Linked DNA regions of Homo sapiens. The protein of the gene in region 2 purifies or fractionates together with the protein of the main gene of each other region. This does not show direct contact. Each region holds a gene or a part of one and is shown on either strand. Other genes may lie near its edges.

Region 1 (3,650 bases), on a different chromosome or scaffold from region 2:
AGCATTTTAAAAGGCATATATTTTCTCATTTATTGTATGGATATATGGTAACATTTCCTTCTTTCCATACTCTGAAGTAGAACAAAGGCAACATGCTCAGAACTTTAAAAAAAAAAAGATGTGTTAATGGCATTCAGAGATGCAGTTATTTGCCCTAAGAATAGGTAGAGCTCTGAAAAATGTCTTGTGGTTTGAATTTTACTGAAAAATTGGAAGGATAGCATCACTACTGTGAACTTTTCTATTTGGTATTATTTTGACTTCAAAAGCTCTGAATTTTGAGATTAAGTATACAAATTCTTAAAGGATAAAAATTTAAAGGAGATCTCCATGTATCATCAAGAGCTTATACATCACTTAGATATGGCCAAGATTATAATATTTTGGAAGGTGTATTCTCAAACATGAGTGTTTGTGGAGGGATATGGGGAAATATTGGATATTTTCCCATAATCAGCAAACTTTTTCTGTAAAAGGTCAGGTAGTAAATATTTCCATCTCTTTAGATCATACATAGGGTCTCTCACATTCAACTCTGTGATTGTAGTGCTAAAATAGCCATAGACAATATGTAAATTGTAGATAAGGCTGTTCCAGTAAAACTTTATTTAAAAAAAAAAAAAAAAAAAACAAGTGGAGGGCAGGAATTGGCCCATATGGGCTGTGGTTTGGTGACACCTGCTCTAGATCATTTCTATATTCTTACTGTAATTTTAGTTCCAGCTTCTTTTATGTAATGGAAAATTCTGGGTTTCTATACTCACAGACCCCTTGTTTGGGGAAGCAAAGTTCTCAGTAATGATATTCCTGATCCATGTCTGGCTTTAATCAGTAATTGAGCAGGACGTACAAGAGTGAGACTCACTACAGATGTGCACTGTGCAGATGTCTGCTGATAAGTTCTGTGTAGCAAAAATGCAGAACACTGGAATGTGGCTGGGGCTTTCTGTAAGGAAGCATCACACTTCATTGTTTATATTAGCTTTTCATATAGTATCTTTTATTTAAAATTTTTTGTGGGGGAGGGGCATATACAGATAGCTTTTATTCCTTAGGATAAATTCCTAGTAGTAGGATTACTGGATCAAAAACTATAATGCTTAACTGGGCGTGCTGGCTCACGCCTGTAATCCCAGCACTTTGGGAGGCCTAACTGGGCAGACTGCGTGAGCCCAGGAGTTTGAGACAGCTTGGGCAACATGGTGAAACCCTGTCTCTACAAATAATAATAATAATAATAATAATAATAATAATAAAAATTAGCCAGGCATGGTGGCGTGTGCCCCCACCATAGTCCCAGCTACTTAGGAGGCTGAGGTGGGAGGATTGCTTGAGCCTGGGAGGCAGAGGCTACAGTGAGCTGTGATTGTGTCACTGCACTCCAGCCTGGGCAACAAAAAAGGACACTGTCTTAAAAAAATAAACAAAAAGAACTATGACTCTTTTAGGGTTCTTTTTGTATATTGCTAGAAATACATGAAGTATATATTATTTTTAAAAACAGCTTTCTTCAGGCATAATTTACATACCATAAAGTCCTCCCATTGTAAGTATATAATGGTATTTTAGCCAATTTAGAGAGTTTGGCAGCCATTGTCAAAATTCAGTTTGAGTTCCATTATTTCAAGAAGATCCCCCATGTCCATTTGCAGCCAATTCCTGTTTTTAAATTTTGAATACATGAAACTATATTCATTGAATAAAAATATGAAGAAAAATTCAAACCTCAAATCTTTTTGTCCAGGGATTTCTGTTAATGTTTATTAAATTATATTTGTGGATATAAATAATGTATTCTTACGTTTTAGATTGGTAGTTCAAGATTTCAAGGTAGTAAGATGGGGGAAAGAAATAGTTTATTCCCATTTAAAATGTTTTTTTACTTTTTTGGTACTTTGAAAGGTGTGACCTTCGTACAGATCCTACAGATCAGGCAGAAAACAGATCAAAGATTACTGTTAAAATGCTTTTCTTTTTTTTTTTTTAATTTCAGTTTATCATGCAATCTACTTGGAAGAAATGATTGCCTCAGAAGTTGCTCGAAAACTTGCGCTGGTGTTTAATATCCCTCTCCACCAAATTAATCAGGTTTACAGACAGGGTCCCACCGGTATTCACATTCTTGTTAGTGATCAGGTAAATCAAATCATTTGTTTTTCCTTTTCAGACTGGTATTTACTTTTATACATGTAATTGTAGAACTGTAGAAAAATTCTGTGACCTCTTTTGAAAATACTTATGAGAATCATTTTCAGAGAGTTGGGAATCACTTTGGAAGAACTTATAACCAAGAGTTTCAGGCATCCTAGTGATAATATGGAATACAAGCCAAGGAAAACTGGCTTAGCCTCCCCCCAGCCCTTTAGGATGCAGCCAATCACTGGGGCACTCTAGGGATAGTGGCAGGCTTTGGCCCTTTTTATGAGGTGAGTCACTGGATGTGTTTTCCTTTTGTCTATTATTTGATGACTAATTTAAAAAAACATGTAAGATATATAATTTTTCCCCTAGTGATTGGTGGCAAGTAATAATAGAAGAGCACTTTATGCAATTTTTGTTCGAGTCATCATCCACTGGAGCCGGCAGGGAATGTGCCCCTGTGGGTCACATGGGTGACTGACCAGGTCTCTCAGGGACCATTATGGACAGGCATAGTGAACACAAGGCAGTGCAGCACGTGTGCATCTTTGCTGCCTCACACTGCCTTCATGAATTATCGTTTTGGCCATTGAGTCCTGTGTTTGTTTGAGAAGAATATTTACTGTTTTAAAATCATTTTAAGAAACGACAGTTGGATCTTAATTGTACTTACGCATTTACTTTATCCTTCCAGATGGTTCAGAATTTTCAAGATGAGAGTTGTTTTTTATTCTCCACAGTAAAAGGTACTTTGCATGTGTGTGTGTCTTAAAATGCTGGAATCATGAGAGATGGTGTGTGCCTCTAATTAGTGCCTCTCGTGTTTATTCTTTAAAATGATTGCTTTACTCATTTTAAGAAGAAAGTTTGATAAATGAGAATATTTCTAGTGGTTGTAACAGAAATTAGCATATAAGGAAGAGGAGTCAGTCTTTCTAGATGACTGGAAAAAAAAATCTCAATTCATTCAGCCAACGTCTTACTGAGCACTTTGTGTCAGACACCGTGCTTCTGTCGCTCAGTGGATCTATTGAATAAAACAGAATCCATGAAACTCCTATTGGGGAAAGCAAACCAAAATTGGCCAAGAGATACACAAAATTCCCAATATGTTAAGTTCCATGAAGGAACAGGAAAGTGTGGGGGTACTTATGGATAAGGGAGATCTGGGTTGAGGGGAATATGAAACTGTAAGGCAAGGCTTCTCTGAGGAGGTGTTATTAATCCTGAGACTTGAAGAATGAGAAGAAGCGGGAGCTGGCCATTGGATTAGCATCCCCAGGCAACGTGGGGCTGTGTGCAAAGAAAACACCTGGCTTCTTGGAAAGCCTGGCAGTGGGCCATGTAGGTGCCATGCAGTGTGTGAGGGTGAGCGGATCAGGGCAAATCAAAGCAGGAGGCCGGGTCTGGCATGCGGGGACCGGATGATGATGGTAGTTCGGATTTACTTGAAATGCATTGGGTTGTCACTGAAGTTGTTTAAACAAAGGAGTAGTAATGTGACTAGATTT
Region 2 (3,650 bases):
GGAACACTTTTCATCTTCAGAATTAGCTATGGCTGCCATTTCCCCTTTTGTCAAATACAGGGAGATATTTCCCACGGTCTGCACATGACTCAGAATGGCTTCATCTTTATTTCACGTTCTACATTTCTTGTTGCTTGACTTAGGAGCATATGAGCTTTTCCCTAGCCAGGCCTTTCCCTGCAACCTACCTACCCTCCCTCAGCACTAAACAATCACATTTCTTGATCCATTCAAACATGCAGGCCTCGGCTGGACACAGTGGCTCACACTTGTAATCCCGGCACTTTAGGAGGCCGAGGCAGGAGGATTATTTGAGCCTAGGAGTTCAAGACCAGCCTACGCAATGTGGCAAGACCCTGTCTCACATCAAACAAACAAACAAACAGGCTTCTACCCACACTCTTCTATACAAATAGTTTTCTCTCCTTTAACAGAACTCAACTCTTCAGAGATTTTCTAACCATACAGTAAAGGGTGAGACACTTTGCTAAAACTTGTGGAGTAGTTAAAGATGAAAAGGGGACAGTATCCACCTTCAAGGAGCCCTCATTCTAGCAAAGAGAGACATGCATGAAAACCAGTAAACCCTAAATACTGTCATAAAGCATGAGGAATGCAGTTCTGTGCCCCACTACAAATAAACACTGCACTTAGTAAAGTCCTCACTGGAGGAAGACCCCATTCACAATGCAAATCCTATTACTCACTATACAACTTGCTACTTCTAACTTTGGGAAAAAAGCATTGAGGAAGCAGCATAATTCTCAGGGCTTCCATAGTCAACTGGGGGTAATCTTGCTCCAGGCTACACATTCTATCGCACCCTCTCTCCAAAGACTCCCCAGGGAAGGAAAATAAGAAAAAAGCAAAAAGTGACCTTAGACAGGCACAACTGTGGGACAATGAGGGAAGGCAGAAGATTGATGGGGTAAAACAAATGCATAAGTGAAAATAGAGCTTTTCTCCACTTCACCCTTAAATAAGCCAGGATTTTAGGTATGATCTTAAGGAGAATGAATGAAGTGATTGTTGAACTCAGGGAAGTAGGAAGGTTGCATGACCTTTGTACCAGCTTTAGGGGCTGGCATTTCTGAGAGAGGCTGGCCCTTCCTGTAGAGTTCAAGAAGTTGGGTGAAAACAAGGCACAATCAGAGGGCAGACATCCTGCCAATTGTGCAACAACCAATTGTGCAATGTGCTTTGAGCTTCCCTGCTGATCACCTTCTCAAAACAGAGGGGCCACAGTAAGGAGCCTACATGTGCAAACGCCTAACACAGTACCTAGCATACAGTCAGTAGCATATAGGAAGGCAATGCAGTCCGGTGGGAATAGCATGAAAGATTTAAAGTATGCCCTCAGACCGGGCACGGTGGCTGATGCCTGTAATCCCAACAATTTGGGAGGCTGAGGTGGGCGGATCATGAGGTCAGGAGTTGGAGACCAGCCTGGCCAACATAGTGAAACCCCGTCTCTACTAAAAATACAAAACTTAGCTGGGCATGGTAGCACATGCCTGTAGTCCCAGCTACTTGGGAAGGTGAGGCAAGAGAATCGCTTTTACCCAGGAGGCGGAGGTTGCAGTGAGCCAAGATCGCCCCACTGCACTCCAGCCTGGGCGACAGGGTGAAACTCCATTTCAAAAAATAAAAATAAAAAATAAAAAAACAAAGTATGCCTTCACAGCTTCAAATGTGGCTTCTGCCACTTAAAAACTCTGTACCTTGGCCGGGCGTTGTGGCTCACGCCTGTAATCCCAGCACTTTGGGAAGCTAAGGCAGGCGGATCATGAGGTCAGGAGATGGAGACCATCCTGGCCAACGTGGTAAAACCCTGTCTCTACTAAACATATAAAAATTAGCCAGGCGTGGGGGTACACGCCTGTAGTCCCAGCTACTCAGGAGGCTGAGGCAGGAGAATCACTTGAACCCAGGAGGCAGAGGTTGCAGTGAGCTGAGATTGTGCCACCGCACTCCAGCCTAGGCAACAGAGTGAGACACCATCTCAAAAAAAAAAAAAGTAGCTGTTGCCTTGTGAAAAGATAGACAAGTTCATTAAATTACCTGGCTTCTGATCTGCAAGTGGGTTACCTGGAAAAAGCGTTGTATGCTCTAAAAGTCCTAGATAAAAAAATTTATTTAACTTTCTCTTCTTCTTTCCTCTGCCTCACCTTACCCCCTGAACTTCCCAGAATGGGAAAAGGAAAGACTTACTTCACTTTACTAGTGCAGATATGGTCTTTTAGTTAGGAACTGTGGTCAATTATTAATGAGAACTGCAGCTATAGTAACACTGTAGATAAACAGGCATTAAAATACTAACAGATCATTGAACACCTGTATTTATTTTTTGCTCCAAGGACTCCATATATTCAGATTTTCTTCAAGATCTTATCCTTTTTTCTCTTTCCGTACATTCCCATTCAACCACCCCTTGAGTATTAATCACTAGTCCAAATGTTTGTTCAGTCCTGACATTGCTATTGGGCATTTCAGGACAGTATCACCACTGTCAGCTGTCACCTCCAAAAGGATAACCAATCAGCCCCTCAAACCCACTGACTCTATAACAGGACGTCATCATTCTCCTCAAACTTCCTCCTTCTATGACTTCCAGATACTTTTTTTTTTTTTTTTGAGACACAGTCTTGCTCTGTTGCCCAGGCTGGAGTGTAGTGGTGCAATCTCGGTTCACTGGAGCCTCTGCTGCCGGGTTGCAGCGATTCTCCCGCCTCAGCCTCCTGAGTAGTTGGGATTACAGGCATGCACCACCACGCCTGGTTAATTTTTGTATTTTTAGTAGACACAGGGTTTCACCATGTTGGCCAGGCTGGTCTCAAACTCCTGACCTCAGGTGATCTGCCCGCCTCAGCCTCCCAAAGTGCTGGGATTACAAGCATGAGCCACCATGCCCAGCGACTTCCAGATTCTTAATGATGCTCCCTTATAATTGCAGATGCCTGAGTTCTAAAACCAGAAGTCCTCAAGTCAAATCTGTCACCAAGTGCTATTCTACTTCCTTTTTTCTCCATTCTATCCACAGTTCAACCCTTACTTGCCCCGAGACATTTACAAAGCTTCCTAACACATCTCTCAGACTTCCGGTCCTTTTCCCTCCAATTTAGCCTAACACTGATGCTTCAGTGAGCTTTCTAAAACACAAGGCACTCCATTCCTCCCATGCCTTCAATGGCTCCCACCTGCAACCAGGAAAAAGTATAAACTTTCTACGATGAAATTTAATGTCCTCCATGATACAACTTCAACATAACTTTTCAAACCAAAGTTACATGATTCCTTCACAAACTCTTAGCCTATGCTCCGCCAAATCAAAACTCTCCTTGTTCCCTAACCCTACCCTGCCTTTTATGTTTTTACAGCTTTGCTGAGCAAACCTCCAGGCAAACAGTAGGAACTAATCAATGCCAGTTGATTAATCAATTGAAATCAATACCCTGGCTTCTAATCAATAATAGAATCTAGGTAGATTCTAGATTGCAAAATTCTTTTGACTTTTCTGAAAGTTTAAACCTTTTCATAATCAAACACTGGGAAAAAATTAGTTAAATGAATAAATAAATGAGAAAATGAATCGCTTGGGACCTGGGTTACATTCTCTCCCAAGAATCATACAGTACAAAAAGATATGTGGC
Region 3 (3,650 bases), on a different chromosome or scaffold from region 2:
ACACAATTTAAGAAAAGCAGCACCAAAAAGTAAGATAAGATAAAAGGCTCTTCTGGTTGGTAACAGAACAGCATGAGGCCAGCATGGGCTGACACAGGCCCGAGAATCCATGGCCAGTGGGGAGCACAGGGATCACAAACCAGAGTGAGAAGGAGGGGAAAATAACTGGCTAGGTTTTAAGGGAAGGTCCAAGGTTCCATTCCCAGCTGGGGAGGGCACAGGTTGGGTGGGGCCTGGCTTACCCAGAATTCCCACTGGGGTTCACCTGGGCCTTTCCCCAAGATAAAACTGGAAGGCCAGACTCCCTGGTCCACACAGTCCAGCCCCCCAAGCACTGTCTCATACACAGAGAGGGGGGCACCCCCAGCTCCACTCCTGAACAGGAAGGCAGGGCTGTCAATACAATGCAGTCGATGACACCACGTGAGCCCGGCCTCCACTGTGTCCAGCTGCCCTCAAATGACCCAATTATGACCTGTCATTTCACCTGGCTGCAGGTTATACTTCTTGGGCAGCTCTGTGGCCAAAACTAGTATTAATTTTTAATGAAATCTGTATTCATTAGAATATTTAAATAACAATTTTTAATAATTATTATAATGTATCCTGTAATTAGTTATTTCTATAATTTATCTTAATAATGAAAAGTTAATTTTTAATAAAATCTGTACTTGCCACTGAAAATGGATGGCTCTTAGCTTCTTCGCGGATATTAGTGAATGGAGATTCCAATATAAGGGCATCTGGAGGCGTCTCTAGATAAACAAACAGGGAACTGAGAGGTAGGCAGGAAGCCAGCGACATACATGTGGCCTGTGGGGCTCTGAGGGGCCCCCAGAAAGCACAAGGAGACCACAGCGCCTCCCACCAGGCAACCACCTCGGCAGGCCTCAGATAGCACCAGGGGTGCCCGCCAGGGGAACAGAGATGGCTCTGGTCACTCCTAAAAAGCAGACTTGCTGATGCGGCTCTGGGGCCAGACCTGTGTGTGTGAGGCTCCCCAGCTCCTCAGGTGTATCATGGGAAGGGTGGCTGGTCAGCCCCGGGCCCCCCAGAATGTGCAGCTCATGCTGCTCCATGAGGACGCTGAGCACTTGCAGCAGGGCCGGGACTGGGGAGCACCCTGAATGCTCACTGCCACGGCTGGGGCCCAACAAGGCACTCACCTCGCTCACAGAGGCGCCGCACCAGATTTGTCGCCACGCTAGGAAAAAAGAAAAACAGCTTAGTTGAGTTATGATAAAATTGTTTGAGATGATATGGGCCTTATGCTGGAAAGTGCTCAGAGGAGCCATGGGGTCTGTGAAGCTACTGGAGTTTCAGGACAGAGTGGGGGAAATGGAGATCCCTCTAGCACTGGGGGTGACCTGGCTGCCCCACCATCAGCTGACCCCTGCAATGAGGGCTGTACCCACAGCCAGTCAGCTTGTCCCCGAGGTGTGTCCTGCTGCCTCTCACTGCCCGTACACTCCCATTGGCCGGGCCGCCTGTCGGCTGGGGGTGGCCAGCGTCTGCCTGCACCTCTCCTGGAGCCCACCACACCCAGGGCCTCTTGCCATCCCAGGACCACACCTGGTGGACCACGCAGACGGCCAAAGGGATGGCTGGTGCCCCCCACCCACTCCTCTCCTGATGCTTCCCAGCCTACAAGAGGCCATTCAGGTGTTGGGAGAAGGGCTGCCCCGAAGGGAAAGGCAGCAGAAAGGGAATGGCAGTGAAGGTCTGGGGACTGGGGCCCTGAGAGCAGAGGTTCCCGCAGAGACGTGGACCTCGCATCAGCAGAGATGACTCAGGCTGCCCACAAAGGGAGTGTGGAAGTACCTCCTGTCCTGGCCTCTGTGAGAAGCAAACCACCCACTGTGCCCTCCCTCAGCTCTGAAGACGCTTCTTCCTCAGAGCCAAGTCTCCCTAGGGAGACCCCTCGACCTCCACTGCCTATGTCTGTCCTGAGCCACTTCCTGGACGAGGAGCTCAGATCCTTTGGAGTCTCTTTGTAACTTCCCCTCCTGCCTCTGCCATGGGGATGGGAGCGAGGCTGGTCGGGACTAATGGTGCCACAGGGTTTGCAGGGATGGTGGACTCTCTAGATCCAGGCATGGGAGTCACCAGGAATACTGACTCCCACTAAAGGCTGCCTCCTGCTGGGGTCCCTTACCCAGTGCCCAGAGAGTGGCCCCAGATGTACACGGGGTTGTCACCACTTCTTGCTTTGATCCAGTCAAAAACGTGGAGTGCGTCATAGGTCATGCCCCGCTCAGATGGCGTTCCCACTGAGTCACCCCAACCTGGGAGGGAGAAACGGCAGGACGGGGAGGTCAAAGGCAGCTCACAAAACCTGGACAAACACACCTCCCCAAGGGGGCCCAGGGCCAGGAGGAGACAGGGAGGGGCCCGCTTGGCCCACCCTTCCAGAGTCCACAGACCCACCCAGGCCACTGGGCAGAGCAAGCAGTGGGGAGAACGGGCACAACCCCACATCCCCACCAGCCCTGGGGAAGGCAGCCCAGCAGCAACCCTGCCCTGCCCCTGCTGACTGCACAAACCAGACATCCCCTCACAGGGTCACTCTAAGTTGGTGAGCTGCACATTTGAATGGCAACTAACAGCAAGCTGAGTTAACAGAACAGATCACAGAGCTTCAGAGCTGGCACCGGCATCCTCAGGCCAGGGCTGGGACTTGCCCCACCCTCTTGGGCAGGGGAGTGAGCTCACTTCTCCCTCTCTCTTTCTTAACAGGCAAGCTAGTGAGGTCTAAGGCAGTGAAAGCCTCTGCCACCACCATCCTCAGCTCTACACTTCTCCCCCATCCCCCAGCAGCATCCATGTGTCCCACTCCGAGCCCTGACGAGCAGCAGTGCAGATGGCGTGGTCAGATGAGCAGCCCCCGGGGCCGCTGGCTGGACACCAACCTCCTCAACGCCGAAGGCTTGGTCAGGGGCAGGACAGGGAGTGGAGTCCGGAGGCTCCCAGAACAGGGAGGGCATTTCTGGGTTCAAGGCAACCATGACCCAGGAAGGGGAAAGGGGCTGTTTCCCCTTAGGGTCTAATTAGCATCTTGTTTCCATAACAGAAAACACTACCATCTCTGCCCCCCAAAATTACAACCTCCCAAGGGTCCCTCCCCCAGTCTCCAGCAAAGGTGGAGTGCAATTATCTTTCCAGCAGCCCAGCAGTGAGTCATCATCAGATGATCTGAAAGCACCACAAAGGTCAGAAAGAGCAGGTTGTGCAGTGTAAGCAAACAGTTAGTGCAGAACTTGCTGTTTCCCGACTCAGACACTAGAGGAGGGAGGAGGCCATGCAGAGGGCTAGGGCCAGGCTGGGAGGCAGGGGTATGGGGACATGAGACAGAAAGAAAAGAACAGAGACAGGGACAGGAGACAGAGACAGACAGGAAGACTGAGAGACAGGAACAGAGAGGCACAGAGACAGGCAAGAAGACTGACAGGGACAGACAGACAGGCACAGAGACAGGGACAGGAGGCAGAAGGATGCGGACAAAGAGGCAGATGCAGTGAGAGAGACAGAGGGACAGTCGGAGATGGAGCTGGCAGTCTTGGTGCCAATTAGAAACGTAGACTCCACGAGAACTGAAACAGAAAGTGCTGCGTGGGATTTCATTTCCTGACAGAAGTGCGGGGAGATGAATG

Evidence for each region.
Region 1: the proteins of CPVL (region 2) and UBP1 purify together in Homo sapiens (affinity purification with mass spectrometry, with the first as the bait; one study listed by BioGRID). This does not show direct contact.
Region 3: the proteins of CPVL (region 2) and ABHD12 purify together in Homo sapiens (affinity purification with mass spectrometry; 2 studies listed by BioGRID and IntAct, with this or other methods). This does not show direct contact.

The regions. Positions count from the first base shown.
Region 1 is NC_000003.12:33,391,798-33,395,447, reverse strand, and holds part of UBP1 (upstream-binding protein 1), read left to right. Parts: intron 1-1,993; coding exon 1,994-2,136; intron 2,137-2,833; coding exon 2,834-2,885; intron 2,886-3,650. UniProt on the Homo sapiens protein: Functions as a transcriptional activator in a promoter context-dependent manner. Modulates the placental expression of CYP11A1. Involved in regulation of the alpha-globin gene in erythroid cells.
Region 2 is NC_000007.14:29,139,911-29,143,560, forward strand, and holds part of CPVL (probable serine carboxypeptidase CPVL isoform b precursor), read right to left. Parts: intron 1-3,650. UniProt on the Homo sapiens protein: May be involved in the digestion of phagocytosed particles in the lysosome, participation in an inflammatory protease cascade, and trimming of peptides for antigen presentation.
Region 3 is NC_000020.11:25,307,291-25,310,940, forward strand, and holds part of ABHD12 (lysophosphatidylserine lipase ABHD12), read right to left. Parts: intron 2,286-3,650; coding exon 2,156-2,285; intron 1,205-2,155; coding exon 1,167-1,204; intron 756-1,166; coding exon 676-755; intron 1-675.